2 separate regions of the Homo sapiens genome follow, and region 2 is linked to region 1. A link means that fine-mapping ties the variant in region 1 to the expression of a gene that starts in the linked region. Tissue or cell type: whole blood. Region 1 holds a variant in brackets; the other region holds the start of a gene. All regions are shown on one strand. Distances are from middle to middle.

Region 1 (8,084 bases):
CAAGCAATTCTCCTGTCTCAGCCTCCCAAGTAGCTGGGATTACAGGTGTGTGCCAACATGCCCAGCTAAGTTTTTGTATTTTTAGTAGAGATGGGGTTTCACTATGTTGGCCAGCCTGGGCTTGAACTCCCGACCTCAGGTGATTCGCCTGCCTCAGCCTCCGAAACTGTTGGGATTACAAGTGTGAACCATTGCGCCTGGCTCAAACTTTTTCTAAAAAAAAAAAATATTTTTAAAGATTTGAGACCTTGCTCTGTCTCGCAGGCTGGAATGTAGTGGTGTGATTATGTCTCACTGTAGCCTCAGACTCCTGAGCTCAATCGATCCTCCCACCTCAGCCTCCCGAGTAGCTAGGACCACAGGCATGCACCACCATGCCCAGCTATTTTTTTTTTAAGACAGAATCTTACTCTGTCCCCAGGGTGGAGTGCAGTGGCATGATCTCAGCTCACTGCAATCTCTGCCTCCCAGATTCAAGCAATCCTCCTGCCTCAGCCTCCTCGGTAACTGGGATTACAGGCATGAAGGGGACCAGCCCCTCCACACCTATGGGTATTTCTCGTCAGGTGGGACGAGAGACTGAGAAAAGAAATAAGACACAGAGACAAAGTATAGAGAGAGAACAGTGGGCCCAGGGGACCGGCGCTCAGCATACGGAGGACCTGTACTGGCGCCAGCCTCTGAGTTCCCTCAGTATTTATTGATCATTATTTTTACTATCTTAGCGAGGGGAGTGTAGCAGGGCAACAGGTGAGGAGAAGGTCAGCAGGGAAACATGTGAGCAAAGGAATCTGTATCATGAGTAAGTTCAAGGAAAGGTACTGTGCCTGGATGTGCAGTAGGCTAGATTTATGTTTCTCTTTACCCAAACATCTCAGTGTAGCAAAGGGCAACAGAGCAGTATTGCTGCCAGCATATCTCGCCTCCAGCCACAGGGAGGTTTTGTCCTAGCTCAGAATAGAACGAATGGGAATGGTCAGCTTTACATCGAGACATTCCATTCCCAGGGACGAGCAGGAGACAGAAGCCTTCCTCTTATCTCAACTGCAAAGAGGCCTCCCTCTCTCACTACTCCTCCTCAGCACAGACCCTTTACAGGTGTCAGGCTGAGGGACAGTCAGGTCTTTCCCTTCCCATGAGGCCATATCCCAGGCTGTCTCAGTCGGGGGAAACCCTGGACAATACCCAGGCTTTCTTGGGCAGACGTCCCTGCGGCTTTCTGCAGTGCATTGTGCCCCTGGTTAATAGAGAATGGAGAATGGCGATGACTTTTACCAAGCATACTGCCTGCAAACATATTGTTAACAAGGCACATCCTGCACAGCCCTAAATCCATTAAACTTTGATTCCTTACAGCACATGTTTCTGTGAGCACAGGGTTGTGGCTAAAGTTACAGGTTAACAGCATCTCAAAGCAGAAACAATTTTTTCTTAGTACAGATCAAAATGGAGTTTCTTATATCTTGCTTTTCTACATAGACACAGTAACAGTCTGATCTCTCTTTTTCTTTTCCCCACACAGGCACCTGCCACCAGGCCTGGCTAATTTTTGTATTTTTTGTAGAGACGGGGTTTTGTCATGTTGGCCAGGCTGGTCCCGAAATCCCGACCGCAGGTGATTTGCCTCAGCCTCCCAAAGTGCTGGGATTACAGGAGTGAGCCACCACTGTGCCTGGCCATGCCCAGCTATTTTTAATTAGAAAAGGTTTTTGTTTTTGTTTTGTTTTGTTTTGTAAACAAGGGATCTCACTATGTTGCCCAGGCTGGTCTGGAACTCCCAGGCCAAAGTGTTGGGATTACAGGCATGCACCACTGCACCCAGCCACTGCTTTTTTTTTTTTTTTTTTTTTGAGATGAAGTCTCGCTCTTGTCCCCCAGGCTGGAGTGCAATGATGTGATCTCAGCTCACTGCAACCTCCACTTCCCGGGTTCAAGCGATTCTCCTGCCTCAGCCTCCCGAATAGCTGGGATTACAGGTGCCTGCCACCACGCCCGGCTAATTTTTGTATTTTTTTTTTTAGTAGAGATGGGGTTTCACCATGTTGGCCAGGATGGTCTCCAACTCCTGACCTCAGGTGATCCACCCACCTCAGCCTCCCAAGGTGCTGGGATTACAGGCATGAGCCACTGTGCCCAGTGTCAAACATTTTTTAAAACCAGTGGCTGGGTGGCTGGGCGCAGTGGCTCATGCCTGTAATCCCAGCACTTTGGGAGGCCGAAGCAGGTGGATCATCTCAGGTTAGTAGTTTGAGACCAGCTTGGCCAACATAGTGGAACCCCGTCTCTACTAAAAATGTAAAAAATTATCTGGACATTTGTAGTTTCAGCTACTCAGGAGCCTGAGGTGGGAGAATCGCTTGAGCCCAGGAGGCGGAGGTTGCAGTGAGCTGAGATCTTGCCACCGCACTCCAGCCTGGGCAACAGAGTGAGACTCTATCTCAAAGCTAACTAACAAACAGACAGTGGACTGTCATTAAAATGAAACCTGTGCAAATCTTGGGTGAAAGATGAAAACGGTGGGGTGGGGGCCCTCCTCTGCCACCTCCTCCAAATACTGGAACTTGGAATCTGGAACCCACCAATGTGGCCCCTGCACCCCGCAGGTGGAGAAACCCGGATGCCAGGCCAGGCCTGACGGGCGGTGATACATTAAGAGCCTCATTCACTGGGGAGCTTGAGCACTTTGGGTTCCATGGGGTTGGCTCCGGCCTGGCGGTGGGGATCCCTGGGCCTGCTGAGGGGTGCAGGAGCCCGGGTTGGTGCAAGGAGCTGGGCTCCAGTCACATACAGAACAAGCCACTTTATTTCCTTCCCCTGCTACGCCCTCCTTCTGCCCGTCATATCCCACATTCAAGCTACCAGAAATCTCAGTTTCTCTGCCCTCAAACCCCAAATCTGGCCCCTCTACACCTTCCACACTGGGTACCACCCTGGCCAGCTGCCATCATCTCCCACCTGAACTATTGCAATTGCCTTCACGCCGGGACTCCTGAGCCCCAACCTCTTCCGTCTGTTCCCCATATGGCCTCCAGAGGGCGCCTGTTTCCATCATGGCAGCTCGTGGCCCTCCGCAGCTCAGAACCCAGAGAAAAATCCAAGGTGCTCCCCATAGCCTCTGTAGGATGCGCCTTACTTCACCGACCTCACCTCTTCCCACTCTCCTCCTCCCTCTCTTACTCCAGCCTCTGCCATTCCTTGAACATGCCAGGCCTGCTGGTGCCTCAGGGCCTTTGCACAGGCTGTTCCTCTCTTGGCTGCTCTGCCCCCCAGATTTCCATTTGGCTCTTCCCACACCTCCCTCTCGACTTGGCTGCAATGTCACCTCAGTGAGCCTTCTCTGACCGCTTTATTTAATTCTACCACCCCTGCTTCCTGCCCCCACCCTCACCCACCCAACCCATACCCTATTCTACCCTTTTCTCTTTTTTTTTTTTTTTCTGAGACGGAGTCTCGCTCTGTCGCCCAGGCTGGAGTGCAGTGGCACGATCTCGGCTCATTGCAAGCTCCGCCTCCCGGGTTCACGCCATTCTCCTGCCTCAGCCTCCCGAGTAGCTGGGACTACAGGCGCCCGCCACCACA[C/T]CCGGCTTTTTTTTTTTTTTTTTTTGTATTTTTAGTAGAGACGGGGGTTTCACCATGTTAGCCAGGATAGTCTCGATCTCCTGACCTCGTGATCTGCCCACCTCAGGCCTCCCAAAGTTCTGGGATTACAGGCGTGAGCCACCACGCCCAGCCCTTTTCCTCTTTTTTTTTTTTTTTTTTTTTTTTTTTATTAAGAGATGGGGTCTTGGGCAGACGCAGTGGCTCATGCCTGTAATCTGTGCACTTAGGGAGGCTGAGGCAGGCAGATCACTTGATGCCAGGAGTTCAAGACCGGCCTGGCCAACATGGCGAAACCCTGTCTCTACTACAAATACAAAAATTAGCCAGGTGTCGTGGTACACGCCTGTAATCCCAGCTCTTTAGGAGACCGAGACAGGTGGATCACTCGCTGTCAGGAGTTCGAGAGATGTGGCAAAAACCTGTCTCTACTAAAAATACAAAGATTAGCTGGGTGTAGTGGCGGGCGCCTGTTATCCCAGCTACTCGGGAGGCTGAGGCATGAGAATTGTTGAACCCGGGAGGCAGAGGTTGCAGTGAGCCAAGATCGCGCCACTGCACTCCAGCCTGGGAGACAGAGATAGACCCTGTCACAAACAAACAAACAAACAAACAAACAAACAGAGATGGGGTCTTGCTCTATGGCCCAGGCTGGCCAGGCTCATACTCCTGAGCTCAAGCAATCCTCCCACCTCGGCCTCCCAAAGTACTGGGATTACAGGCATAAGCCACCACGCCAGGCCTGCTCTACTTTTTTTTTTTTTTTTTAAAGACAGGGTCTTGCTCTGTTGCCCAGGCTGGAATGCAGTTTCATGATCACAGCTCATTTCAGCTTTGACCTCCCAGGCTCAAGTGACACTCCCACCTCAGCCTCCTAAGTAGCTGGGACTATAGGCCCATGCTACCCTGCCCAGCTATTTTTTTTTCTTAATTTTTGTTTTTTGTAGCGACACAGTCTCTGTATGTTGTCCAGGCTGGTTTTGAACTCCTGGGCTGAAAGGATCCTCCCACCTACGCCTCCCAAAGTGCTGGGATTATAGTTGTGAACCACCGTGCCCTGCCCTGTTCTCCTTTTTTAATAGCAACAGTCCCCTCCCAACAGACGATAGAATTCACTGGTTTATGATGTTTATTGTTTCCTGCCTGTCCCCACTGGGAAGGTCACTCTGTGGGGGAACCATCTTTGAATTGTTCACTGCTGTAGGCTCAGAGTCTAGCATAGGGTCCGGTGCATGCGTATAGCAGGAGCTCAATAAACACTCGTGGAATGGTGGAAGAGGCTGGTTCAGTCTCGACTCTGCTGCCTGGCAACTATGTGACCTTGGATGAGCACTGCCAGGTCTCACCCGCCGGTGACAATGGCTCTCTTATGCCTCACCCAAAGGCTGCTAGTGCAGGTTACGTAAGAGCAGAAGAAAAGGCACTTTGACGGTCACTCCCTGGGTCCCAGTTCCCAGCTCCCACCTTTCTCTCCCTTTCTCCATTGCCCCACCCACCCCTCTTGCCTCTTTGAAGGAGCTTGGCCCAGGAAGGAGGGCCCAGGCTGGCCCCGGATTAGGGTTGGTCCTGGGTTCTAGGCTCAGAGTGGCAGTATGGGGACAGAAAGGCAGAGGGCAGTGACTCAGTTTTGTCTCTCTTAGAGACAGGTCAATGTTCTTAGGCCTGTTGGATTCTGCCCCCATCTGCTCTTTTTGAGGTCAACTTTATTGAGGTATAATTTACATACAATAGGCCGGGCAAGGTGGCTCACACCTGTAATCCTAGCACTTTGGGAGGTCAAGGCAAATCATTTGAGGCCAGGAGTTCAAGACCAGCCTGGCCAACATGGTGAAACTCCATCTCCACTAAAAATACAAAAATTAACCAGGTGTGGTTGTGCACACCTGTAATCCCAGCTACTCAGGTGGCTGAGGCATGAGAATCACTTGAATCCAGAAGGTAGAGGTTGCAGTGAGCCAAGACTGCACCACTGCACTCTAGCCTGGGCAACAGAGCAAGGCTGGCTCCAAAAAAATTGTTTCATATGATAAATTGCACCCGTTAAAATCAATTAGGCCAGGCTCATGCCTGTAATTCCAGCACTTTGAGAGGCCGAGGCAGAAGGATCGCTTGAGCCCAGGAGTTTGAGACCAGCCTGAGCAATGCTGCGAGACCCTGTCTCAAAATAAATAAATAAATAAATAAAATACAGTTAAATGAGTTTTGACAGATGAATATACTGTGAAAAACCACTCCCATAATCAAGATACATGATATTCTCATCATCCCCAAATTTCCTCATGCTTCTTTGCAGTCTGCCCCTCTCTCCAGCTCCAGGCCCCGGTAACCACTGATCTGCTTTTGGTCACTATGAATTAGTTTTACCTCTTCTAGAATTTTACATTGGTGGAATCATATACTATGTAGCGTCTTGCATCTGGCTTTTTTTTATGTGTCATAATGCTTTTGGGATTTATTCTTATTTTTGCATGTATCAGTAGTTTGTTCTTTCTTTTCTTTTCTTTTTTTTTTTTTGAGATGGAGTTTCACTCTTGTTGCCCAGACTGGAGTGCAATGGCACAATCTCGGCTCACTACAACCTCCGCCTCCCGAGTTCAAGTGATTCTCCTGCCTTGGCCTCCCAAGTGGCTGGGATTACAGGCATGTGCCACCATGCCCAGCTAATTTTGTATTTTTAGTAGAGACAGGGTTTTGCCATGTTGGTCAGGCTGGTCTTGAACTCCCGACCTCAGGTGATCGGCCCGCCTCGACCTCCCAAAGTGCTGGGATTACAGGCGTGAGCCACCACGTCCGGCCCAGTTCTTTCCTTTTTTAAAAAACTTGCTAAGGAGTATTATGTTGTCTGAGTGTACCACAGTTTGCTTATCCACCCACCTGTTGATTTACATCTGATGGTTTCCAGGTTGGGGCTATTGTGCATAAAGGTGCATTTGTAGACAGGTTTTTTATTTTTTATTTACCTTATTTTATTTTTGAGACAGAATCTTGCTCTGTTGCCCAGGCTGGAGTGCAGTGGTGCAATCTCGGCTCACTGCAACCTCCACCTCCCAGGTTCAAGCAATTCTCCTGCCTCAGCTTCCTGAGTAGCTGGGATTACAGGCACCCACCATCACGCCCGGCTAATTTTTGTATTTTTAGTAGGGATGGGGTTTCACCATGTTGTTCAGGCTGGTCTTGAACTCCTGACCTCAAGTAATCCGCCCTCTTCGGCCTCCCAAAGTGCTGGGATTACAGGTGTGAGCCGCCACACCTGGCTAATTTTTGTATTTTTAGTAGAGACGTGGTTTCACCATGTTGACTGGGCTGGTCTCAAACTCCTGACCTCAAGTGATCTGCCCGCCTCAGCCTCCCAAAGTGCTGGGATTACAGGCATGAGCCACTCGCCCCTCCTAAATTTTTTTGGTAGAGACAGGGTCTCAACATATTACCCTGGGTGGCCTCCACCTCCTGGGCTCATGTGATCCTCCAGCCTTGGTCTTCCAAAGCGTTGGGATTACAGGCATTAGCCACCACACCTGGCTAATGTAGACAGGTCTTTACATGCCACTATTGTTCATAGCAAATATTTTGTAACATGTAGGGCTGATAGACAAAATATTTACTGCTTGGCAAAGTCATCAGTCCATCCAACATCCGGGATATGGGTCCCTCTTATCTCCCACTATACCCAGTTTAACCCCTGGACTTCTGGGCCAGAGGGCAGCCCAGGGGATCCCCAGGGAGAGCTAGGAGGATACTAATAGTCAGGGGGTTCATGGCAGTGACCGTTTATGAATGAGTAAATAATCCATAATTTAGTGTTTTGCTGTCTTAACCACTGGCGTGGCCATACCAGGGCGTGTGCTGGCTTGAATGTCAGTTCTGGGAAAGTTCTCTCTGTTCTCCTGAAATGAAGTTCATAGACAGTATAACCCACTGGCACATGATTTAACATGATTTAAGAAAATCCTACTTTGGGAGGCCAAGGTGGGCAGATCACTCGAGTCCAGGAATTTGAGACCAGCCTGAGCAACATGGTGAAACCCCATCTCTACTTAAAATACACACACACACACACACACACACACACACACACGTATTTTTAGTAGAGATGGGGTTTCACCATGTTGGCCAGGCTGGTCTCGAACTCCTGACCTCAAGTAATCCATCCGCCTTGGCCTCCCAAACTGCTGGCATTACAGGCGTGCGACACCGCACCTAGCTAATTTTTGTATTTTTAGTAGAGACATTATATATATAAATATATTTATATATATATATATATAAAAGCTGGGTGTGGTAGTACTTATCTGTAGTCCCAGCTACTCGGGAGGCTGAGGTGGGAGAATCGCCTGAGCCTGGGAAGTTGAGGCTGCAGTGAGCCAAGACTGTGCCACTGCACTGCAGCCTGGGTGACAGAGTGAGACCCTGTCTCAGAAACAACAACAACAGCAGCAGCAACAAAAACGATCCTTGATTGCCCTAAATGTAATAAAAAGGAGAAATAA
Region 2 (8,091 bases), 49 kb after region 1:
AATGCTGGGGGATGAGATGGACTGTGGACAGGAGGGGACCAGGGTTCTCCTTTGGGCGGGCCACAGGAGGTGATGAGCAGAGGGTGAGAGAGGAGAGTTGAGCCCCACTTCCCCTGAGGCCTTTGGACAAGGCCAGGTGAGGGGTTCCAGGGCTGCGTCTGAGCGAGGAGCCCAGTGACCACCCCTTCTGTCCCCGACACATGTGCAGGCCATGACTGCTCCCTGCGTCTCTGGAGCCTGGACAACAAAACGTGCGTGCAGGAGATCACGGCCCACCGCAAGAAGCACGAGGAGGCCATCCACGCTGTTGCCTGCCACCCCAGCAAGGCCCTCATTGCCAGTGCTGGCGCTGATGCCCTGGCCAAGGTCTTCGTATGATGCCCACCTGGCCCTGCCCTGGCCGCCACGCTGGCTGGGGTGTAGGGCCGGGCAGGTGGGGCTGAGGTGAGGGCAGAAACCCCGCATTCTGAGTCTCTGCACGCCCATGCCTAGTACTGCCAGGTGTGCTGAGCCCCGCAGTCCAGTCAGGGGCGTCCTGTGAGAATCACTGGGGGAGCCCTGGGCATGCAGGGGAGGGGTTGAGGCCTTAGAGGCGCCCTAGAGGCGGCGGCTCAGTCTCCCCTCCCTTCTCTTTCCCGCAGGGGACTCCCAGCCTCGCTGGAGGTGCAGAGGCCTGGCCTCTGTCTGTTTGCCATGGAGCCTGGTGGTGCTAACGGCCCTTTCCCCAGGAATCCCTCCCCAACGGCTGCCTTCCCCAAGCATCCAGCCTGGGGATGGGCCCCTTTCAGGAATCACCCCCGAGGATGGCCTCGGGGTTTCCCCCTGTGCCCTGACAGCCGCTCCTGGTATCAGAGCTGCTTTCCAGAGGGCAGCACAGCCAGGGCCGGGTGTCTTTAGGGATCAGTTTTTCCAAGACTCCAGAAGGTGCCAGGTTCTCCCCTTGAGCTCCTGCTCCCCCATCCCCCATCCTCCCAGACCTGGGCAGGAGCTGTGCTGGGAGAAAGGGTGGCAGCCGGGAGCCTCAGAGCTGAGCCCCGGCCTGGCTGCCCCTCCCCTCCGGCCCTCTCCACTGCTTTCCAGACACTAACCAAGGCTTCCAGGCCAGGGATTGCCCAACACTCCTAGGGCAGCCCTCCCAGCGCCCCATGGGGTCGCCCATGGGTAGAGACGGCTTTCTTGTGCCCCTCCCTGGGGCATGGAGGGTGGAGTGGGCCTCGGGTCCCCCTGAACTCCCTGTATATCTGTATAAATAACGGGATTTTCATGGCGCCGCCCCACCCGCATTATCACTGTGTGATGGTCTCAGTCAGTCTCCTCCCTGTCTCCACTCTTTCCCTCTATTTATTTCACTCTCTTGTTTGGTTCTACCCTGCACCCTCGGTCCCCTTCCAGGTTCCTGTTTATAAGCCCCAACCCCTCTGTCCCCATCTTGTATGTGAAAACTTGTCTCAATAAACCCTTTGGAGTAAGATGGGTGACGGTGCCATCTGTTGAGGGCACTGGGGACTTTGGGGGAGGAGTGACCGGCTCTGCCTGGGTTGGGTGGAGTTTGGAGAGAGGGGATATGATGGGTTGGGGTTTTGTGGTAGGGCAGCAGGGGCCGGAGACGGGCCCAGAGCTTGGGTGGGGTGTGGGTGGAGAGAAGTGGAGGCACTGGACCGAATCTCCTTGTGCCCTTTCTGTCCCTAAGTGCTCCCTCCCCAGGGGTAGAGCCCTGGGGAGCAGATACTATGATGACAGTCCAGCTGAAGCCTCAGCCCCGCCTGGGATGTGTGAGGGTGGTGGCGAGGCCAAAGGGCTGGTGCCCAGAGGACGTAAACCCCCTTCCTGTTCCCATCCCAGGCCCACAAGGAGCAGGGAGGGAAAAGGCTGCACCTGCCAGTGGAGGATGATGGCTTTGGGGCGCAGGCTCCTCCATGCTGGGAGGAGGTGCCGCAGGTGCCCGAGCCCTCGTGGCTCATGTCCTGATGCGTCCCTCCTTTCCCTTCTCAGTGGTCCACGTCTACTGTACTGAGTGCTTTACATGGCATTTCACTGGGTCCACAGCCTTAAAAAGAGGGAGCAGGTGTCCACATGCTCCAGATGAGACGGAGGGGACCGCTGCTCCTGTCTCGAGGAGGCTTCCACCACCTACCAGCCAGGCGTCCTCGGTAATCCTAGCACCTCTGCCACAGGGCACTAATGCCCAGTTCCTGGGTTGTAAAGGGCTGTGCCCCAGTCCCCCAGCAGGCCCCAGTGAACATACGAGAAAGGATGGAGGCCGCTGTCTGGACACTCAGGACATGGCAGCGTTTTGCTGGGACAGTCATCTGCCCTTCAGGAAAAAGGGTGCAGGTGGGCAGGAGGCCCTTAGATGACGCCAAGGGGAGCCTTCGTGGGCTCCACGTGGTGTGCTCCCTGCCCATCCCTCTGGGCTCAATGCAGTTCCCCAGGTGGTGGTTTGGGTTTTCACTCCAGCCTCAGACTTCCTTCCTCAGCCCCAGCCCCCGGATGTGGTGACAGAATCGATACTGTACCGACCTCAGCTACCCCCAACGGCCGTACACCAGGAAGAGGGGCTCTTCTGGCAGCCCCCATCCTCAGCCAGCCCTGCCATTTCCAGTCCTGCCAGCATCCCAGCCAGACAGGTGGCCCTTCTCTTAGAGCTCAAACCTAGGCCTTGACTTGTCAATCAAAGGGGTGGGTGGGGCAGCTTCCCTCAAGCAACTTCACTCTGGGATCTTGGGCAAGACGTTTTGCTTCTCTGAGGCTTCAGCTTATTCTGTGTAAACTAAATGGTAGCCACTATTTGATTATTAGCTGGGGAGGAGAGATCAAGCCTGACCCCTGTAGCGGCTGGAGTTTTACAGCAGGGCCCACCCAGCACCCAGTAGGTCCTCACAGATACTTGCTGGGTGACTGAATGGGTGTGCCCACCCATCAAAGCCTGAGTGCTGGAGGTGGCCACCCCTTTCCGCGTATTATCAGAGACAACCACCTCTTACTGAACTGCTGCGTTTCCAGGCACCAGTATACCATGGCATCGGCTCCCACCATCCCATGTGGGGTCAGTCCTATTACAGTCCCAACAGATGGAGGGACTGAGGCTCACAGAGAAGCCACTCACCCAAAGTCACATGGAGAGAAAGACACGCACACGTACTCCACATCCCCAGGAGACACACTCTGCATCTATGAAGTGGTATGGGTGTGCTGTCCTCCCTCGGGGCAGCCCCACACTATCCTAAGGCGGGGTTGGGGTGGGCGGGGGGATGGACCCTCCCCACCCATCCAGTTAGCGCCATGCACCTTGCCCACCATCGCTGGAGACAGACCTAAGGCGAGCCCCTTCCTACCCATCTGGAGGCCTCGGTCTTTCCATGTGTTAAATGGGCTGGGGCCGGGGGACGCTCTGCAGCACCCCCTTCCCTGGGCTGGGACGCGGCGGGGAGGGCAGGGGTGACGCTCGGAGAACAGAGAGGCCGAACCCAGAGAGCGGGCCGGGACCTGATACCGATTTCCCACCCGTCCCCTGCCATGGGCGCCGGACGCCTGCCGGAGAGGGCTCCCCTCCTTAAAGGGCCAGTGGCCTCCAAGCCCGACGCCTGCGACCGGCGGTGGGTGATAGTGTTTCCCCTCCCTGTCCAGCCGAGGGAAAAGTTAACTTTCCAGGCTTGGCTGTGTTCAGGGAAGGAACTGGTCTCGCCTGCCTGCCCTCCATCCCTCACACCATCCCTTGTCCCGGACCCTGGAGGCGGAGGTCCAGCCCCCAACTCGGAGGCCCCGGGCCCACCCTCCCCTTCCGCCCCCGGCCCCTCGGCAGGCTCCGCCCCTCTCTGACGTCGCCGAGGCCCGCGCCGATTGGTCGACTGCACTGTCGCTCCGGACACTTCCTCCTGGGCCGCCGCCGCCGCCGCCGACTTAAACTTTGGAGGGGGAAAAAGAGCTACTGGCGCCTGGCGACCCTCCCTGCCCCCCACCCAACCCCGCTCCGGCAACGCCCCCTTCCTCACGGCTCCCGACCGAACTTTTCTCCAACTTCTGCGACTCGTGAGATTCCCTTCTACCCACTCCGGCCCTCGGGACCCCTCTGCCCATCCCCTGGCCGGTCGGGTCCCTGCGAACCCCTTTATCTCTGGAATCCACTCGGTCCCCGACTCAGAGACTCCTGCCCTCCACCCCCAAGGTGAATTCCCCCGGGCCGCCTTCTGAGTGGGATCCTCTTCTTGGAGCACTGGATCCTGGGATTCCCTCTGCCCCCTTCTCAATCCCTCCTCTAGGGAAGGGGCCTTTGAATCGCGGGCTCTCCTGATCCCTGTGACCCCGACCTACTAGATTTCCTCTCAGGCTTCTTGGAATCTCAATCGCTGGGACCTCCAACCCACTACTTTTCTCCTTTCTGATCTTCTGGGAGCCCTGGATTCCGGGCCTCTGACCCACTATAGTGCCTTTCTCTCCTTCCCAGGACCCCGCCATCCTCAGGTCCCCTCCGCCTGCCAGATCTTTTCTCGGATCCCCGCTCTCCCACCACCTGCTCACGAGATCCCGCGGATCTAGAACCCAGGGTCCCCCGGGGCCCCCCGGCCGGGTCCCGGGTGGGCTCCAGGCGGCCGGTCCCCGGCCTCCCCCCATGGCCACCGCCCCCTCTTATCCCGCCGGGCTCCCTGGCTCTCCCGGGCCGGGGTCTCCTCCGCCCCCCGGCGGCCTAGAGCTGCAGTCGCCGCCACCGCTACTGCCCCAGATCCCGGCCCCGGGTTCCGGGGTCTCCTTTCACATCCAGATCGGGCTGACCCGCGAGTTCGTGCTGTTGCCCGCCGCCTCCGAGCTGGCTCATGTGAAGCAGCTGGCCTGTTCCATCGTGGACCAGAAGGTGAGGGCGCAGGCTCCCTGGATCCAGCTCGGGGAGAGGTTGAAGGAGGGGGCGCTGGCAGAGGGGTCTGGGGCCTGGTGTGCGGAAGAGGGAGGAAGGAGACCTGAGCTTTGGGTGATGGAGGGATAGGGGGCATTGCCCCCCTCCATTGCCCCTCTCCCCACCATCCCTTTGAGAGAGGACTGGGCAGGGGTGGGGTGCCCCAGAGGCCTCCCCAAATTTCATGTCCCTGCATGTCGTTGTTTTCTGCAGCAAACAGGGAGGAAGGGAGGGGCCAGCCAGGTGTAGAGAGGGGAGGAAGGGGCAGCAGATGTCGGCGGACCTCCACGTCCAGGCCCATCCCGGGCCTCCCATTTGGTGGAAACAGGAGAAATTGAACCCGGGCTGGCCATGGTGATCCGGTGACATGTGTGGGTGCAGGTGCTTGAGTTAGCTGCCAGGGGCAAGTGAGGTCTCGGAGCCCAATTCTGCCCTCCCCTAAGCCTGAGATATGTGTGGAGGGGCAGGCACTCCTACAGACCCTGGGGACTCTATTCCCTTTCCTAGTCACAGTGCTGTTAGCCTACTCTTAATTTTGGACACCAGGGTCCCCAGGGTGGGCAGCTGGGTGTTATGGCAAGAGGAAACCAGGTGGAACTCCACGTCTAAACCGTGAAATGTTAAAAGAATAGTGGGCTTCTGTGTTGGAGTACTGGACTGTAGAAATGTTAGAATATTAGAATCATAACTTGTTGGAATATGCATCCTAGGCAATTAAATTGCCCCCATGTTCGTGTTCAAATATTAGAATTCTAGGTTTGTGAAATAGTAAAACATTAAAATGCTGGAATATTAGATTCCTAGATTGTTGAATCCTAGAAAGTTAAAATGTTAGAATTTTAGAATGCTGGATGGATGAGGTCCTTGAATGCTAAAGAATTCAAAGAGCACAGTCCTAGCTTGTCAGACTCCTAGAATATTAAAATATTAGATTACCGCTTATTTAGGTTATTGAAATCCTAAAATGTATAGTGATACCAGGTAGGAATCTAGAATGTATAATTCTATAATGTGAGCATGTTGGAGTCCCAAAATATCCAAATTCCAGAATCTTTTCAGACTCCTGGAAATGAATCCTTTGGGCATCAGAGAAACGTGGGGAACTGGGCCAGCTCCCCCATTCTACAGACAAGGAAACTGAAGCTTAGAGAAAAACTTCCCAAGGGGTCAGGGCCAAGGCAGTCCTGGTCTTCTGTGGACTCTCTCTTAGCAGTGAGAACTGATAGGGTTTTGCCCACCAAATGCCTCAATCCCGCAGGCCCAGCTCACCACCCCAACTCAGCCCACTTCATGGGAAGCTGGTGGCAGTGGGGGTACGGGGGCAGATTGTCCCTTGGGTGAACTTCTTTGTCCAGTGCTCAAGTCCCCAGCCTGCCCCGCTCAGGCTTCACCCCAGTTTTATTTTTCTGCCAGGTCCAGGTGTGTTAGGGCCGCTTACCTTCCTTCCCGAGGCCCCACCGGGGCAGTTTCACTTTCTGTTCTACTAGGTTTCATTTCCTGCCCCCAGGCCCCCAAAGCTGAGGACCCAGACACCTGGGTCCTTTGAGCATTGGGTGGCAGGCGCCCTCCTTATCTCCAGCGCCCTCGAGTCCAAGTCCCCCGGCCCCCCCCCCCACTTTCCCAGGAGCCCCGAAAAGTCCTCCTTCCAGCTCGCCCCACCCCAGTGCTGGGCCTGGAGCCAGGTAACTGGGACAACAATAGACAGATCCAGGAAGGAAGCTGGGGGGCGGGTGTGTGAGCCTGGGGAGGAGGCACAGGGGAGGGAGTGTTCATTCAGCATCCCCTCCCACCTCCGCCAGGTTCCGGAAAATTCGAGGTGTCCACGCTCCCGGAGCCACTCTCCCTCCCACCCCAGCTCCCCCTTCCAGCCACCAAACCCACGCCGGCGCCCCCTCCCCGTACAATTGGGGCGCTGGCATCCTGCCCGGCTCGCGCTGGGGTTGGGAGGGGGCAGGCAGGAAGCGAGGGCCTGCGGGGTCTCTGCGTTTCCGGGGGAAACAGCCGGCCCTGCCCTGGGAGGGTCACAGTCCGCCCGCTGCTGAAGGCGGCTCTGAGCTTTTCCGTCGCCACATCCCTCTCCCGCCCCTCAGTTCCCTGAGTGTGGCTTCTACGGCCTTTACGACAAGATCCTGCTTTTCAAACATGACCCCACGTCGGCCAACCTCCTGCAGCTGGTGCGCTCGTCCGGAGACATCCAGGAGGGCGACCTGGTGGAGGTGGTGCTGTCGGGTGAGAGGTGGTGGCCGGCCTGGGGGCGGGGCCTCGGGTGGGGGCGGGGCATCTGGGGGAGGAGAGGGTAGGGGGAGTTAGAAGTCAGGAGAGGCCGGGTGTAGTGGCTCACGCCTGTGATCCCAGCACTTTGGGAGGCTGAGCTGGAGCTGGGGGGATCGCTTGAGCCCAGGAGTTCGAGATCAGCCTGGGCAACATAGTGAGATTCCATCTCTACCCCTTTCTCTCCCTCTGAAAAAAAAAAATAAGGAGAGTTGGGGGCTTCTGGAAGATGGTTACAGAGTGGGGTCATGAAGGCGCTCTTTAGGGACTGGTCTAAACTTTCATTTATGGATTAGGATGCTAGTGACACGCTTTGTACAGTTTGAAAATTCATTGAGCTGTGCACTTGTGATGTGCGGCCTTTCCTGAACATATGTTATACTTATTTATTTATAAAACTAGTCAAGTGCAGTAGTTAGAAGGGGGAAAAGAGGAGAAGAAGGAGTTGGATCTGTAACTGACTGTGTTATGCTTAAATATAAAGGTAAAAAATGGGCCAGCTGCAGTGGCTCACACCTGTAATCCCAGCAGTTTGGGAGGCTGAGGTGGGAGGATCGCTGGAGCCCAGGAGTTTGAGACCAGCCTGGGCAACATAAGGAGACCCCATCTCTTAAAAAAAAAAAAAAAAAAAAAAGTTAACCGGGCGAGGTGGCACACGTCTGTAGTCTCAGCTACTTGGGAGGCTGAGGTGGGAGGATTTCTTGAGCTTAGGAGTTTGAGGCTGCAGTGAGCCACGATCATGTCACTGCACTCCAGCCTGGGCAACAGAGAGAGACCCTATCTCTAAAAAAGAAAAAAAGTAGAAAAAGAAAAAAAAAAGTTATGATGTCCATGGCTCCTGCCACGAAAATGCTAAATTAAATCAGAATCTCTGCAAAGTGAGATGGAATCTGCACATCAGTATTTTTAAAAGCCCCCAGGTGATTTTCTAA

The links. PIP is the estimated chance that this variant, and not a neighbour inherited with it, causes the effect.
Region 2: it holds the start of PRKD2, and the variant in region 1 is fine-mapped to the expression of PRKD2 in whole blood (TOPMed, PIP above 0.99).

What each region holds. Positions count from the first base shown.
Region 1 is chr19:46,761,807-46,769,890 of GRCh38, reverse strand. No RefSeq gene overlaps it. Among named protein-coding and RNA genes, the nearest start is that of STRN4, 19 kb to the right of the region's middle. The variant C/T (reference allele first, on the strand shown) is at 3,580.
Region 2 is chr19:46,712,889-46,720,979 of GRCh38, reverse strand. It overlaps PRKD2 (protein kinase D2), which reads left to right and starts at 3,866. Exons shown (of 18, transcript NM_016457.5): 1 at 3,866-4,849; 2 at 6,979-7,117. The coding sequence starts at 4,610. It overlaps STRN4 (striatin 4), which reads left to right. Exons shown (of 18, transcript NM_013403.3): 17 at 209-444; 18 at 642-1,469. The coding sequence ends at 378. LOC107987269 reads left to right here and starts at 1,258. Exons shown (of 4, transcript XM_017027568.2): 1 at 1,258-2,334; 2 at 2,478-2,627; 3 at 3,004-3,181; 4 at 3,803-4,446. The coding sequence starts at 1,917. The coding sequence ends at 4,169. RefSeq lists enhancers at 2,571-2,620, 6,132-6,431 and silencers at 3,741-3,900, 3,921-3,970, 6,622-6,851.